Linked DNA regions of Homo sapiens: region 1 is linked to region 2. Evidence: fine-mapped expression QTL. A gene starts in region 2. The other region holds a variant in brackets. All regions are shown on one strand. Distances are from middle to middle.

Region 1 (8,327 bases), 19 kb before region 2:
CATGTACAAAACAACAAAGCCCCTCTCATGGGGTTTATGTGCGTAATAGTCACTCATAGAGCATGTACTGGAAGTCGTGAGGTGTGTAGTCTGGCAGGGAAGAGAGTCAGCCATCAGATGGATGTGGTGAGTGTTATGGCACTGAGATGGAGAGATATACTGGGTGGCGTACGGAGAAGCACAGGAGGAAGAGGCTTCCAAATGGGCACCCTGATAAGTGGACGTTAAATGGCGTGTGGCATCTTCCAGGTTCACTAAGGGAGGCTACTCTCCATTGAGTTAACCTCAAAAATGCATACATGGAAGTACCCTAACACGTGACCCCTTTCTCCTTTCCAATTTCTTTCTATGCTGGCCCCACCCCTAGGTCTTGGAGGTACATAGCTTGTTGTCCGGTTTCAGTTTCACAGCTGGAGAGAAACTTTGCCTCAGGAAGAAGTATACTGGGAGCCTCACCCATACTGGGTTTAGATGAGATTTAGATGAGATTTTGAACTTAAAAGTTGGTGCTGCAAAGAGTTAAGATTTGGAAACTGTTGGGATGGGGTGAATGTATTTTGCATGTGAGAATGACATTCATTTTTAGCCAGAGGGAGAAGCGTTATGGGCTGAATTATGGTCCCCCCAAAATTATTCATGAAGTCTAATACCCACAACCTCAGAATAGGACCTTATTTGGAGATAGGTCTCTAAAGAAGTAATTAAGTCAAAATGAGGTCATTAGGGTGGACCCCAGTCCAGTAGGATTGGTGTCCTTATGAGGCGATTAGGGCACAGACACCCACAGAGACACCCACAAAGGGATGACCACGCGAAGAGGCAGGGAGAAGATGCCATCCACAAGCAAGGAGAGAGGCCTCTGAAGGAACCAACCCTGCCAACACCTTGATCTTGAACTTCTAGCCTCTGGAATTGGGAAGAAACAACTTTCTGTTGTTTAAACCACCCGGGCTGTGGTATTTTGTTATGACAGCTCTAGCAAACGAATACAGAGGTGTTTGTGAAAAGGAAGCAGCACAGTGTGGTAGGGTAGGGTAGTACACTCTGGGCACCTCCAAACAGTTCTGCAGACTTGGAGTGTAGGGTGCAAGGGATGGAGGGGAGGCTGGAGAGATGGGCAGGGGCCCGGCCATGAAGGGCCTCTGGTGACAAGGATTTGGGACTTAATTCAGCATTCAAGGTATTGAGGTATTGAGGATGAAGTCAGGCTGGGCGCGGTGGCTTGCGCCTGTAATCCTAGCACTTTGGGAGGCCAAGGCAGGCAGATCACGAGGTCAGGAGTTCAAGACCAGCCTGGTCAACATGGCGAAACCCTGTCTCTACTAAAAATACAAAAATTAGCCCGGCGTGGTGGCAGGCACCTGTAATTCCAGCCATTCGGGAGGCTGAGGGAGGAGAATCACTTGAACCCGGGAGGCAGAGGTTGCAGTCAGCCAAGATTGTGCCATTGCACTCCAGCCTGGGCAACAAAAGCAGGACTCCATCTCAAAAAAAAATAAATAAATAAATGAAAGGAGGAAGTCGGATACAATGCTGTATTGCAGATATAGTACAATGCTGTATTATAGGAAGATCATTTAAAGGAGGCATGGAGGAGCTAAAAGGAGAGAAGAACTGGAGGCAAGAAGATAGGGGTCACACTAACAGACATAAAACATGGGTCAGACACCGTGGCTCACGCCTGTAATCCCAACACTTTGGGAGGCTGAGGTGGGTGGATCACGAGGTCAGGAGTTCGAGACCAGCCTGGCCAACATGGTGAAACCCTGTCTCTACTAAAAATACAAAAATTAGCCAGGCGTGGTGGCACGCGCCTGTAATCCCAGCTACTCGGGAGGCTGGGGCAGGAGAACCACTTGAACCCAAGAGGCGGAAGTTGCAGCGAGCCAAGATCGAGCCACTGCACTCCAGCCTGGGTGACAGAAAAAGACTTTGTCTTGGGAAAACAAAACAAAACAAAACAAAAACATGATTCTGGCTGGGACTAAGGCAAGGGTAGCCAGGATGGAGAGGTAGGGTCCCAGAGAGATGCTGGGAATGTAGAATCCACAAGAGTTGGCTGCAAGTTGGATGAGGAGCAGGGAAATGCTGAGGGAAAGAGAAGCGAGAGGAGCAAGGGTGTGGGGAGGAAGCGACCTCCACCCTGCACGTGTTGAGTTTGAGATGTGATTGTGCTCTGACTCCACACGCGCAATTGAGAACCAGCTCCTGCAGAAGGGAACTGAACCAAAGGCCTCGGAGGAGACTGCCTGGGAAGAGAAGCTGGACAAGGGCAAATCAGTGGACCAGTGTGCCATGTGGTATACTGAAGGAAGGGGGGATTCTCTGAGGAAGATGGAGAGGTGATGTCAAAGAGGAAGAAGGCAAACTAGGAAGGAGCAGGGTCTTGACCCCTACTGCATTGAGAAACAAGAGGGTGGAGAAAGCCCCAGACAGGAAAGAGCAGTCGCAATGGCAAATGCGGCAGACAGGTCAACATGAGGACTTGGAACTTGCCCAAGAGAGTGGCTCAAGAGAGTGAACCGAGCCCCTGCCAATAAATAAATATTTGTAGAATGAAGGAAAAACCCCTGGAAGGTGAGACTATGAGCACCATCTCCAAAGAGCGATCACTGCCGTATCATTTTATGCCTTTCCAATCTCGTACCGGGAATCCCCATCTTCCAAGTTGTCACTGAAATGACTAAAAGAGTATGAAAGTAGAGGGTGATTACACTAGACATAGAAGAAAACGGCCGCTCAGGCCTCAGAGACCTCAAGGAACTTCTGCGAGGCATGGCGGAAATAAGAGTAGATTCAAAGAAGTGCCTGCAGACCTTTAAGTCACCATGTGCAGAGAAAAGTGGAAAACCTCAGCAAAACCCCAGCAACACCCTGAGCATTGGCAAAAGGCATATTCTGTTACACACATCACAAGCAGGGGCATGCCAACCACTGTGCCAGGTACGGAGGCACTGCAAGAACCAAGACAGATGGAACCTGGCCCTCAGGGAGCTTAATTCTGGTAGGAAAGGTGGACAGTAAACAAGTAAACAAATCAAGCAAGGAATCACAGAGTATGATAAGTATGATGAATGAAATAAATGGCCGGGCGCAGTGGCTCACGCCTGTAATCCCAGCACTTTGGGAGGCCGAGGTGTGTGGATCACCTGAGGTCCAGAGTTTGAGACCAGCCTGACCAACATGGAGAAACCCCTTCTCTACTAAAAATACAAAATTAGCCAGGCGTGGTGGCGCATGCCTATAATCCCAGCTACTTGGGAAGCTGAGGCAGGAGAATGGCTTGAACCCGGGAGGCGGAGGTTGCTATGAGCCAAGATCATGCCATTGCACTCCAGCCTGGGCAACAAGAGTGAAACTCCATCTCAAAAAAAAAAAAAAGAAAGAAAGAAACTAGGATGGGCCAGGCACGGTGGCTCACGCCTGTAATCCCAACACTTTGGGAGGCTGAGGCGGGTGGATCACCTGAGGTCAGGAGTTCAAGACCAGCCTGGCCAACATAGTGAAATCCCGTCTCTACTAAGAATATACAAAAATTAGCTGGACATGGTGGCACGCATCTGTAATCCCAGCT[A/G]CTTGGGAGGCTGAGAGAGAAGGACCCCTTGAATCCATGAGGCGGGAGTTGCAGTGAGCTGAGATTGCGCCACTGCACTCCAGCCTGGGTGACACAGCAAGACTCCATCTCAAAAAAATAAAAGAAACAAACTAGCATTAGCCAATAGAAACTGGACAGGGACTAGTTAAGATGTATGGCAGTCAGTTTATCTTGCTGAAATTTTTCCAGCTTGAGTTACATGACAGATCTCATGTATCATCATGTTGTAGGATCTATCACATTTTGCACAGTTAGAATTTTCTCCTGTCACGTTTTGGACAGCCACCACTGCCAATGTAGGAGTGGTGGGGGAGGGGTTGTTGGAAAAAAATTCTGTAATTTGCTCCCTGAGGCTACACTTTGATTCCCTGGGTCAAAGTAGCAGGGATGGGAGGCAAAGATGAGCCAGCAGAAGTGGAAGGGGACAGTGACCATATCCCAATGTCACAGAGTACATGCAAGAAACAATGTACAGCCATTTTTTATGCCCATTCCTTATTTCTCCTGATAATACAGCCTGCTCCAGGCACAGCAGGGATGCTCAACCCAAGTCCCTCCCAGAATTTTCAAGTGAGAGACAGGGAGGACGCTTCCTCTTTGGCCCAGCAGCTGTGAGGATATGAGCTTAGAGATCATGATGCTTTTTCCCTGCTGTGTGAAGAGGCTTAACTGCACAAAGAGAGAATGAAGCCAACACACCCAGAGCAGTGGGGATAAGAGGTGGAGAAAATGCGCCCTGCTGGTCCAGCTGTCCCTGCGGCCAGCTGCACCCCATCACTTCCTGTGCTTTGGTTCTCTGAGCCTCTTCCCTTTTCTGCCTAAACTGCTTTCAGGTGAGTTTCTGCAATTTGCAACTGTATTAGGGTTCTCCAGAGGAAAAGAACCAACAGGATGCGTGTGTGTGTGTGTGTGTGTGTGTGTGTGTGTGTGTGTGTGTGTGTAGAGAAAGAGAGAGACAGAGACAGAGAGAGATTTATTGTAAGGAATTGGCCTGTGCAATTATGGAGGCTGAAACTTCCCAAGATCTGCAGTCAGCAAGTTGAAGACCCAGGAGTATACATTCCAGTCTGAAAGCCACAGGCTCAAGACCCAAGAAGAGCAGATGTTTCTGTTTGAGACCAAAGACAGAAAAAGACCAATGTCCTGGTCCCCACAGTCAGGCAGGAAGGGGTTTCCTATTACTCAGCCTTTGTGTTCTACCCAGGCCTTCAACTGATGGGATGCAGCTCACCCACATTAGAGAGAACAATCAGCCTCACTCAGTCTACAGATTCAAATTCTGACCTCGTCCAGAAACACCTTCACAGACACAGCAGAATAATGTTTGACCAGATATCTGGGCATCTAGTGGCCCAGTTGAGCTGACAGATAAAATGGACCATCGGAGTAGCCTAAGTGTCTAATCGTGATGACGTAGCTGAAATCACACAGAGTGGGGATCATATCACAACCTACTCCTGAAGTCAAGGCTGTACTAAACAAAGCAAGGGCCCCTTGATGGCAGGCTTGAACTTGCGCTGCTCCTACCATTTAGCAGAGGGGACCCAAGCTAACCTCAGGGGCAAAGATCCCTGCCATGTTTGCCTCATTCAGAGCTCTCTCTGCTTCCTAAGGCTCCTAGCATCAAAATAGGCTCTTGGGGATTGGCTGTTTACTGGCTAGGGTGAGCTAAGCTGCTGTGACAAGTAGACCTAAAGATGTAAATTGGCTCAAACACAGGAGTTTATTTCTCACTCACATAAGCGACTGCAGCATGTGTTTTCAGCCGATGGGCAGCTCTCTGCCATAGGGCGATGCAGGGATCCAGGCTCCCATCATGGCTCTCCCATACAGCCTAGTTGTCATCTACATCTTGCCAGCAGAAGGGAAAAGGGAATTCTCAGAAGCCTTGGCCAGAGTGGCACACATCACTTTAGGTCTTGTTCCATTGGTGGGAGCTACTGAAATGGCCACACTAAACTGCAAAGAAGGCTGGAAAATGTAATCTGGTCTTGCATCTTGTTATAACTTCCATCACTACAAAAGGGGAACATGATTGGGGTGGGCAGAAAAGTCTGCTTTCTGAGAGAACTAAATGGCTGGCACTGGGGCATTTGGATTCTAGTTCTAGACCAGGATTTCTTAATCTTGACACCATTGGTATTTTAGACTGGAAAATTCTTTTCGCGGAGAGGAGGCCGTCCGGGCATTGTAGGATGTTTAGCAACATCCCTGGCCTCTACCCACCTGATGCCAGTAGCTCCCTCAACCCCAGTCATGACAATGGAAAATGTCTCTAAACATTGCCACATGACCTTTGGACACAAAATCACCCGCCATTGTTCTAGACAACAAGAGGAATGGTCAGAATCTTCTGTCAACCGGAGAGGAAATGTAATGAAGTGGCATGCTCACACTTCCTCTCTGTCACTTGGAAAGTGTGGCTACTAGTTTTTGCTCACAACATTGACAGAATAGCTGAGATGCTGACTTGAAGTTTCAGAGAGAACTGAGTGATAATGACTTCGAGCCCTCAGACTCTTTAGTGAGAGAGTAATGCCATGAGAATAATGCCCAGGGATTCTGCAAATGCTCATCACAGCCAGAACAGCACGAAAGGAAATGCCCTGTTAAGTTTCTTCACTTCACGCCGCACAAAAGTCAGAACAGGCCAGGTGCAGTGGCTTGTACCTGTAATCCCAACACTTAGGGAAGCCAAGACAGGAGGATGGCTTGAGTGCAGGAGTTCGAGACCAGCCTGGGCAACGTGGTGAGACCCTGTCTGTACAAAAATTTTTTTAAATTAGCTGGGTATTCGCCGGGTGTGGTGGCTCACACCTGTAATGCCAGCACTTTGGGAGGCCGAGGCGAGTGGACCACCTCAGGTCAGGAGTTCGAGACCAGCCTGGCCAACATGATGAAACCCCATTTCACTAAAAATACAAAAATTAGCTGGGCATGATGGCACGTGCCTGTAGTCCCAGCTGCTCCGGAGGCTGAGGCAGGAGAATTGCTTGAACCCAGGAGGCGGAGGTTGTAGTGAGCTGAGATCGCACCACTGCACTCCAGCCTGGGTGACAGAGTGAGACTCTGTCTCAAAAAAAAAAAAATTAGCTGGGTATGGTGGCATGTCCCTATAGTCTCAGCTACTCAGGAGGCTGAAGAAGGGGAATCACTTGAGCCCAGGAATTTGAGGCTGCAGTGAGCCATGATTGCGCCACTGCACTCCAGCATGGGTGACAGAGCAAGAACTTGTCTCAAAAAAAAAAAAAAAAAAGGCAAACTCATACTAGCTTTTCTGCAATGAACAGACTTTCTGAGTTATTTGTGTGGATTCTCTGAAACGTCTGTGAGAGACAAGATTTTTTGATACTTGCCTAACACAAGACGATGTTTGTAAACACTTGTAAAGTTCTTGTTATTTCTGAACATTGTGAGCTATAGAGTAGACAGACCCCTAGGAAAGATATTTCTTTGCAGGAAATGGACTGCCCTATTATAACAAGTGAAAATTCTTTGCAGCCTGGCGAAAACCAGAAATAATACCATCCAGCAAAGCTTCAGGATGCTTTACCTCCTGGAAACCCAGCCGTATTGTTCTAACTTCATAGGAAACTGATTTTCTGGCTGTAGCTGATGGGGATTACTTCGTGTTCCATGGGGATCTTTGGGACAAGCTGTAGTCTCAGACAATGAACTGTGGGTTTCTGTGTCACTGCCAGCATAAAATATTAGTCTCCTGATTCACGGAGAATATGCTAGACTCTTGAACATTAAGTAAAGACAGTTACATAAGTATTTTTTATTAGAAAGCTACTTGCGAGAGATAAACTACAAGGTCATAATCAATAAGGCTCAATTTGAAACACTGCTGAGAAAAGAGAATAGAGACTTTTTTTTGCTGCTGGAGTTGCAGACTTATGTCAGACTGAGATTTGTGTGCAAATATCTAAGTATTCATACTCCTCTGGCTGAGTGCAGTGGCTCAGGCCTATAATCCTAACACATTGGGAGGCCAAGGTGGGAGGATCCTTTGGGGCCAGGAGTTCAAGACCAGCCTGGGCAAAATAGCGAGACTCTCTCTCTACTAAAAAATACAAAATTAGCCAAGTGTGTTGGCATACACTGTAGTTCCAGATGCTCAGTAGGCTGAGTTGGGAGGATCCCTTGAATCCAGGAGTTCAAGGCTGCAGTGAGCTATGATCATGCCACTGCACTCCAGCCTGGGCAACAGAGTAAGACCCTATCTCAAAAAAAAGAAAAAAAAGAAAAGGTACTCTTTCTGATTATGAGCAATTTGGGTCAGAACAAGCATTTGATATTTCACAAACCCATGTCCATCATTCTCTCCAAACAGGCCTGAAAACACTAGACTTTTAGGCTTTTTGCCAGTTTCTACATAGTCTGGAAGCAAGAATGAATAAATCGGATAAGTAATCTTGCATTGCCGAGTGATGGTTCTAACTTCAAGGCGATCCTGTCACCCTCCTGCTCAGAATCTGTCCTATAGGCCATTCCCATGGCCTACAGGGAGTGTCCAGCACCTCACCCAGCCAGAGACTGACTCTCTGTAGTCTGGCCTCTGCTTCCTTCTCTACCCTATCCGCTGCTGGCCCAGGCTTCCTCTGTCACCTCGAGCCCCAAAGAACCAAGTGCAGAGCCATGAACACACCACGACATGTCAGGCCCCTGCATTGCTCAAACTTCTCCCTCCCTAACCCCCGAAGCTTGGTGACTACTTGTTCAGGCTTCA
Region 2 (8,327 bases):
GTCATTTAACCTCTCTAAGCTTCCATTTCCTCACCTGGGAAATCAGGACAATAACAAAGCCTACCTCGCAGCTGTGGAAAGGATGAATTGCCTAATATATGCAAAGAACACACCCCAAGACCGAGCACACAGGAAATGCGCAGCAAATGAGAGCTCCCATCCTTGGCATCATTAACTATCCTTGGTTAACAAGATGCAGGTTAAACAAAGAGTGCACAATGACTCCCGGGTTTCTGGCCTGCTGTTACTAAAAGCGGAGACAGGAGTGGGTAGATTGGGAGGGAGGCCTGGAAGAGGATGCGCTCATTTGTCGAGCATGAAGTGCTCACTATTGGAAGAGATGATCCTCCGTGGGTCCCTTGCACTCTCACACATCTTGCTGTGTATGCCAAGATTGCAAGACCCTGACCATTTTTAACCTGGGCCACTTCTCAGTGCTGTGTTTACAGCGAGCCGCCTTGAGGGATGAGGTACCATCTCCCTGGAGGAGGAAGAGCAGGCTTGCTTACTCCTCCCTGCATAAGCAGCTCCAGGCTCGGTGTTCCTCAGCTATGACGCTAACCAGCTGCCTGTGGAACATCCATCTGGGCCCCCCATATTGCCCCTGTGAGACTTGGAGGCAAATATGCTGATGCACATGCTTCTTGCTGTGCTCTGAGTAACAAAGTCCTATGTTTCTGACCACAGAGTGTCATGTCTTCTTTTAGCATCCATGAATCAATGACAGGTTAATTTATTAGCTTATAAGTTGGAAAGAGTCATCAGCGTGTACATGGCAAGTAAAGCCATGATTACAAATAATATTGCCCAGCAGAGCATGTTGGTAATGTGCCTGTAGTGCCAGAAACGCGGGTGGCTGAAACAGGAGTGTCCTTGAGCCCAGGAGTTCAAGGCTGCAGTGAGCTATGATTGCACCACTGCACTCCAGCCTGGGTGACCCTGTCTCAAATAAGTTTATTTGAGACTCTGTCTCAAATAAATGAATAAATAAATAGCATTGCCTAGGAAGAGATACGGGGTAGTACCCTGCATAAAGGCAACAAGTAAAGAATGAGGGTAAGAAAAGGAGCTCCCAGGAGAACTCAAGAAAGAAACCTAGAGGAGAGTAGTTCCTTGCAAGCCAAGGGAGTAGAGTTTCAATCAAAAGAGTAGGCAACAGGATCAGATGCTGCTTAAAAGTCAAGTAAGATGAAGACTGAATGTGGCCACTGAGTGTAGCAACTAGGTCACTTCTTTAGCTGTTGCTAAAGGCTAAAGGCAAGAGGCATTTTAGTGACATGGTGTGGCCAGAAGCCAAGCTGAAGTGGGTGAGGAACGAATGGAGGTAAAGAAAGAATGACAATAGGCTGGGCGTGGTGACTGATACCTGTAATTCCAGCACTTTGGGGGGCCAAGGCCTGAGGATTGCTTGAGGCCAGGAGTTCAAGACCAGCCTGGGCAACATGGTAAAACCGTCTCTACAAAAAAAAATTACAAAAATTAGCTAGGCATGGTGGCGTGCACCTGTGATCCTGGCTACTTGGGAGGCTGAAGTGGGAAGCTAGCTTGAGCCCAGGAGATCAAGTTTGCAGTGAACCGTGATGGTGCCACTGCACTTCAGCCTGGGCTACAGGGTGAGACCCTGTCTCAAAAAAAAAGAAGGGAGGGAGGAAGACAGAGAGAGAAAAGGAAAGAAGGGAGGAAGGAAGGAAGGAGGGAGGGAAGGGAGGGAGGGAGGGAGGGAAACTAAAAATCTTAGCTGAAAAGAAAGGATAAAGTTGGGGCACTGGTGACTGAAGCAGGCAGATGCAAATGAAATTTTTCAATAGATGGAAGAGAGGTGAGTAGAGCATATCTTGAGGAGAACAAGCCAGAAAACAGGAAAAGTCAGGGTAAAAAAATCAAGAGCAAGGGGAGGAGGATAGAATCAGGTCTCTGAAAAAGAGGAGAGGGCTAACATTCAGATCCCAAGTGAGGGGCTGGTCTGGCCCCTCTCCCATTGAAATGGCATTTGCCCCAACCACACACCCTCAAGCAGGCCAACAGGCTATCTAGGTTGTGTGGTCTGTCTCCAGGTGGGTAGAGCTCACTGTCTGTAGGGAGGGGCCTGGTCAATAGGTGTCCTTGGTGGCCACTTTGTCTGGTGGTCCTGCAGACCAGAGATGAGAGACACATAAGTATTTTTCAAGCTGGGTTCTCTGGAGATGCCAGCAGGTGTGTGCTCCTATGCAAAGGGTTCAGGTAAGTTTGGAAAGTGCTGTCCAAGCCCTGCAAAGCCAGCTTGTAGGAAGACTGAGTGTTCTCTGCTGGCAGAGATGGACATTTGGGAGTGGGGTGGCCAAAGGGAAGAGAATGCCTGCAGGAGAGATGCCAGGACTCATACTCAAGGTACTCAGGGATAACGGAGAAGACACCTATGGAAAACCCTGTGATCACAGAGCAGGAAGAGGAACTCATTTGCAGAACATCTCTACTCTGCTTGAAGTTTATATATTGACAAAGATTCTTTGCTTGGCCAAACTTTAGTCAGGCTCCCAAACCTTCTCCTAGACCCTCTTTGCACTTCCATGTAAAATCCAGTTTTAGCAAAGACCCTGTTAAGACAGTTTAGCAAGAACCCTCCATCTTGTATATCTGATCATCTTCAATATCTGATTAGGTTTATCATCCCCCACCCTCCCCCAGGTGATCTCTGGTCACCTGGCCTGTCTAAAGCAAGAATTCTGTTAGGTTGGTGTTGTGAGTGCCACAAAGTCAGAAATAATCAGGTTCATGCACATGTGTGTCTTTCTACAACGTCAGGCTTTTATTGATGCTATTTCAGTCATAAAAGCCACAAGCCACATGGGGTTCTCAAGGAGGCAAATTCTCCTTAGTTTTCCCCATTCACTTGGTAATAAGAGCTGTGGGCATACAGGCTCAAGTCACTCCACAAGTCAGTCAATACTGCCAACCATACATGGTAGTATACTTAATCAATATATAAATGTTATAGATTACACATTCCACATCAAAGTACATTTAACATCAAGAGAAAAGGGGATAGGGAAGGAGCGGTTAACAATATAGTCCAAGGAGAGTGACTTGGACAAGGGGAGTCTCCTGGCCTGATCCAAACAGTCCTCAGTGTCTTGCAAGGAAGAGTCTTTGATGTGGGCAGAGTGTGGGCAAGATGGGGTCTATCCAGACGGTCATCTCCAGTTGCTGAAGTCCTGCTCTTTTTATGGCTACAGAATCCTCTGGTGAGGACTGATAGCAAAGAGTGTGCCTGTTTATGTCTTTATCTGGTGGGGTGTAGTCTTTATTGATTAGGCGAACATCTGGTTCCTGTTGGCATGAGGCTTTTTCAAATGTAAAATGGACCCTTTTTCTAAGATGGAGTTACTTATGTCAAGGGTGCTCCATACAACCTGTTTAGCCAGAATCCCCCTCAGCCCTGATGTTTCCCTTATTAAGTTTCTATCCGCTGACCCCCACCCTGCTCCTTAGCAACGAATTCCCACTTGCCCATGCTGTAATTGGAGTTGAGCTCAATCTCTCTCTCCCTGCAACTGCAAAATCTCATAGCAGAGGTCCCTACACCTATGGTAATGGTCCTGAATAAAGTCTTCCTTACGATGCTTTAACTCATGTCATTAAATAATTTTTTCCTTTAGCAGTGTCCACCGAGTTTACTCTCCCAATTCTTGGCAGTGTTATTATCCTAGCCTGACAGGAAGAATCAGGACTCAAGAAGCTGAAGACTCGCCTGATACTCAGTGCTCACTAAGTAGTGGGGCTCAGCTCCCTGTGATTTGGGATCCAGCCTCCTGCCCCTACAGCCCACGTGCCCTTACACCCTCAAGCAACACCCAGAGCTGGGGTCAGAGGCGAGCTTGCACAATTGCTTCTGCCCTGCGCTGGGACCAGGGCGGCCTGTGGTCTGCAACAGAGAAGCTCCCCCACCTGCCTTCGCCTTCACTCTGGCAAGCCCTGGCAACACCATGAGATCCCAGGGCTCTGGTCCCTTACAGACTGGGCCTGGCAGAGGCACGGGGAGGAAGGTGGGCCAGCAGGGTGTACCGCTGGGCCTACTCGCAGACGTGCGTTTGCTTTGTTGTACCAGGACTACCCCAGGGACCCTTCTCCAGGGCTGTGAGAGTGAGAACAAGAGAACACAGGAGTTCACACCTCTCCGGTCCAGATGCTTTGAGAGCATGATGGAAGCAACAGGCCCTCTCCATAGAAGGGCACGCACACAACCCATAAGCTCGCACAGTTTCCAGGTTTACGCACCAACCACACCACTACAGCGCCCTGCAAGCAGGCCAGGTCTCAAAGGAGCGTGCATGGGAATCACCCAACATGCTGGCTAAAAAGGCGGATCCCAGGCCCCACCGAGGAGATTATCATTCAGTAGGTCTCGGTGGAGGCCTTAGAGCCTGCGTTTTTAACCAGCGCCTCCGACGATTTGGGCGCTGAGGCTCAGCGGAACCCACCTTGAGAAACCCGACTCTGGGCCTAAGAGAGCCCCCCAACACACACACCCCCATGCTCCAAACTTTCCCCATCTCGCCCGACGCACCGGGCGCGCGGTGGTGGAAGCGTCGGGGAGCCCGGTGGGGACCGAGAGCGACGGCCCATGGGGCCTGCCTGTTCCCCTCGCCCCCGCGCCACGGCCCCGGGAAGCGCAGCACTGCCGCCCGCAGGAGGCGCGACTGCCGAGAGGACGCAGGCAGGGGGCGCCTGGTGGTGGTCCCCAGCCCGGAGCCGCGGGGCGGGAAGGAGCGGGAGCCCGAGAAGAGGGAGGCGCGCGACGCCGCGGAGCTCCGGCGCGGAGGCGGGGGGCGGGGCGGGCCGAGCCGGGCCGGGGCGGGGCCGGCGGGCGGGCCGGCGGCGAGCGCCCGGGGAGCGCGCCCGGGTAGCCAAGAGGGAGGAGCGCGGGGAGCGCCGACAGCCGCCCGCCCGCCCGCCCCCGCGACGCCCGCGCGCAACAGTTCCCCCAAAGTTGCAGCCCGGGAGGCGAGCGCGCACGGGCGGCCGAGGGGCGGGCGGTTGGCGGGGACGCGGCCTCGCGGCCCAGAGCGGAGAGTCCCGGCGGGCGGCGGCGGCATGGGCACCCGGCAGACCAAGGGCAGCCTGGCGGAGAGAGCCAGCCCCGGCGCCGCGCCGGGCCCCCGACGCGAACGGCCGGACTTCTGGGCGTCGCTGCTGCTGCGCGCCGGGGACAAGGCGGGGCGCGCGGGCGCGGGGATGCCCCCCTACCACCGGCGAGTCGGCATGGTCCAGGAGCTGCTGCGGATGGTGCGCCAGGGCCGGCGGGAGGAGGCGGGGACGCTGCTGCAGCACCTGCGCCAGGTGAGCGCGGGGAGGGGGCGCGGGGGGCGCGCCGGGCCAGGGGGCGTGCTGGGCCGGGGGGGGCGCCCCATCCCTAACCGAGGAAGCCGGGGGCACCGAGGGGCACCGCCCAGGGGCCCCTTCCGCGGGGATGGAGCCCTGTCTGGCAGCAGGTGCCTCGGCGCTTCCGCTGAATGTGGGGCCTCAGGGCAGGGCGGAGGAAGGCTGGCCGGGTGAGGCCCGCCGAAGGGGACCTGTTGGCATAATGTCCCCACTGCTCTCCTCCGCAGGCAGAGAAGGAGGCTGGTCTCCGGGGACAGTCGGTGGGCGGGGAAGCAGGGATGCCTGCCTGATCTGGGCCAGGGCTCTTTTCTTCCTGTCTGCCCACTGGCAGTCACTCCCGGCCGAGGGTCCTCAAGGAATGCGGTTATCAGTTGGACCTGGCTTGGCTTCCCGAGAGCGAGTCCAGGGGCACAGCCCTGGGGCCAATGAGATTCCAGTCCCTAGGTCCTTCACTCGCCTGGGAGGCATCCTGGATTGTAGTTCAAGGAGGAGACTGTTTCCTCTCCCCTGACTAACTTCAGCAGATCCTCAACCATGAGCCCCTGCGGAAAGCGGTAGAGACAGGGGAGCTGGATTTGGTGCCCTGTGTGACCACCTGGCCAGCAGCAACTTCAGGAGACTGCCAGGACTCTGTCCTTAGCCTGTGCCTGTCCCACTGGCTAGGGACAGATGTTGCGGAATTGGCCAGTTCCCTCTGCTTTGGGGCTGCCCTGAGGCTAATGCTATCACTCACCTCTCTGTGGCTTGTTTTCCTTTGTCAGTTTCTTTGGTGGGGAGAGGAGCATGGCCCATGCCATGGATTTTGTTGAGTATAAGACAGGCAGGGGAGTGCAAAGCTGCTCTCCTGCATCACCAAGCAGGTTGTCTTGGCCTGGCTTTGGTGGGTAGACAATCCAGGCCCCATATTCTTGCTAGACTGACCCCATTAGAGGTGGAGTCTACCGTGGATGGCAGAGGGAAAATCTCAGGTGACCTTTCTGGGGTTTTCCAGTCGCTGCTGAAAGAGGCTGTAGGAGCACCTTCTTGGGAGGAGCTTCCAAAATCTAATCAGACCCACATCCCTCTTGGGTTCTGCAGCACTCTTCCCCACCTTTGTATCTGGTGCGCTCTTACCCTAAAGTATGTGTCCCCAAGCTGTGCACTGCACAGGGAGAGGCAAGCAGAGACGAGGGGACTTGGGAAGATGTGGGACTTCTGCTTCTGCCTCTGTTTTCCCCAACAACTTCCAGAATGATGCCCGAGACGCTGCTGGATCCCCATGTGCCTTCTCTGAGTTCAGTCATCAAAGAAAGATGACATTATGCACCACTGAACTTTAGCAGTGTGTATTTCTTTGTCTTTTGAAAATTGGAAGCTGACATATGGCCTTTATAGTAACTCTTTCACTTTTAAACAGAATATTGGGTTTTCCAGACCATGGTATCCTATTTACACACCATACAGTAAGGTTTTCCTGATCACATGCTGTTTCCCCCACCCTGCAATGGGTGCTTTGGGGGATACAGAAGAACAGAGGGAGCTGGCAAGCACTTCTTGGAGGGTGCAAGACCAGAGCGAAGCTTGCATGATGGAGGGCCGCTTGGAGGCCCACGGGAGGAGACTGGACCCAAAGTGGGCAGATACTTTGGGCTCCCCAGTCCCTGTAGGGCTGAGTGTGATTCCACATCCTGGGGACACTGAGCTTCTCCCTGCCTTGAGGGAGAGTAGATAAGCCCCTGCAGCCCCACTGTGGGATCCTTGAAACAAGAAGCATTTCCTCAGACATCTGCACATGGGTCTTATTGGTGTCCTGGTACCCGCCTCAGCTGCAGGACTGGGAGGGCTGATGGGGGGGTGGGAGGGGGCTTATCAGACTTCCCCCTTTTCTGTGAAAGCAGCAGGTCCTCAGGCTCTGGGCTTCTGGGCTCCTGTTGGGCTCCCTTAACCCCTGGCTGGGGATGCAAGGGCCGTGGGCCTGGAGCTGCCCTGTGTGGCCTGGAACGGATGGAGCAGGACCCCTCCCGAAAGTGGTCATGGGCCTTGAGCAGTGTGGGAGTGGAGCACAGGAGTGTTCACTTGCCTATGACAGAGAGGTGGCTTTCTAGGACCCTGAGGCCATTTGGAGGAATGTCCAGCTGGATTTGTGCTGTGCACTGAAGTGGCTCTTTCTCCAAAATTGCATTTTCCTTTCCATTCCAGTTTCCTTCTCTAGTCTGGTGGTGGTGATGTTCAGAAAGGGAATGAGCAGCTAGTGAGAGCCTTGAGAACACACAAGCCTCACAGGGGTCAGACCAGCAAGAACCTCTTCCTCAGCAAGACAGCCAGTAAAGACAGGGGTCTGCAAAGCGTGGGGCACCCTGTTCTGCAGGAATGTCATGCAGGCCTCTGGGGTGGGAGTCAATGAGCAGGCACAGAACCAGGGAGGGGCAGCAGCGAGGACAGTAGCCCTCACCTCCATTCACACAGCATGTTCTCCTGCATTTGATAACTTGGGTTTGGCTGCTGGATTTGTGTATGCCCAGAGCCATATGGCTGGTGGGGACTCGGGAGCCTTTGTTCCTGTGCTTCTTAGCCTCTTTGAGTCCTTGATCTTTTTGAGGCTCTGAAAAAGCTACACACAATCTTCCCAGGCAAATGCACTGACTCACGCAATCTCACAGGCAATTTCGGAGGGTTCACAAAGCCCCTGAAACCCAGCTACAGACTCCAAGCTCAGAATCTCTGCTCCAGTCCAATACCACCCTTCTCCCTGCTGTGACTTGCTCCAGGCTGGGGATCTGGAAACAGGGACCTGACCCGGGTGCATGTGTGGCAGTTCACGGTGGGCTGAAGGATTGTGGCTGCTGGTGCCACTTCTTCTGAATGCCCCTCTTCAGCATCTAAGATTTGGAGGGCGTCTCTCCAGCTTGTCACTTGCTGGAGAGGTATCAGGAGGCCTCATTCAGCACAAATGACCCTGAGCTGTGGCCAGGGGTGCAGGCAGGATGCCA

The links. PIP is the estimated chance that this variant, and not a neighbour inherited with it, causes the effect.
Region 1: its variant is the best candidate, but not a certain one, in a credible set for the expression of LRRC75A in whole blood (TOPMed, PIP 0.72).

What each region holds. Positions count from the first base shown.
Region 1 is chr17:16,508,178-16,516,504 of GRCh38, reverse strand. No RefSeq gene overlaps it. Among named protein-coding and RNA genes, the nearest start is that of LRRC75A, 20 kb to the right of the region's middle. RefSeq lists an enhancer at 1-221. The variant A/G (reference allele first, on the strand shown) is at 3,575.
Region 2 is chr17:16,488,734-16,497,060 of GRCh38, reverse strand. LRRC75A (leucine rich repeat containing 75A) reads left to right here and starts at 4,868. Exons shown (of 4, transcript NM_001113567.3): 1 at 4,868-5,316. The coding sequence starts at 5,071. The region is part of intron 2 of LOC124903936 (a long non-coding RNA gene); the gene reads right to left. RefSeq lists silencers at 4,616-4,955, 5,046-5,095, 5,206-5,265.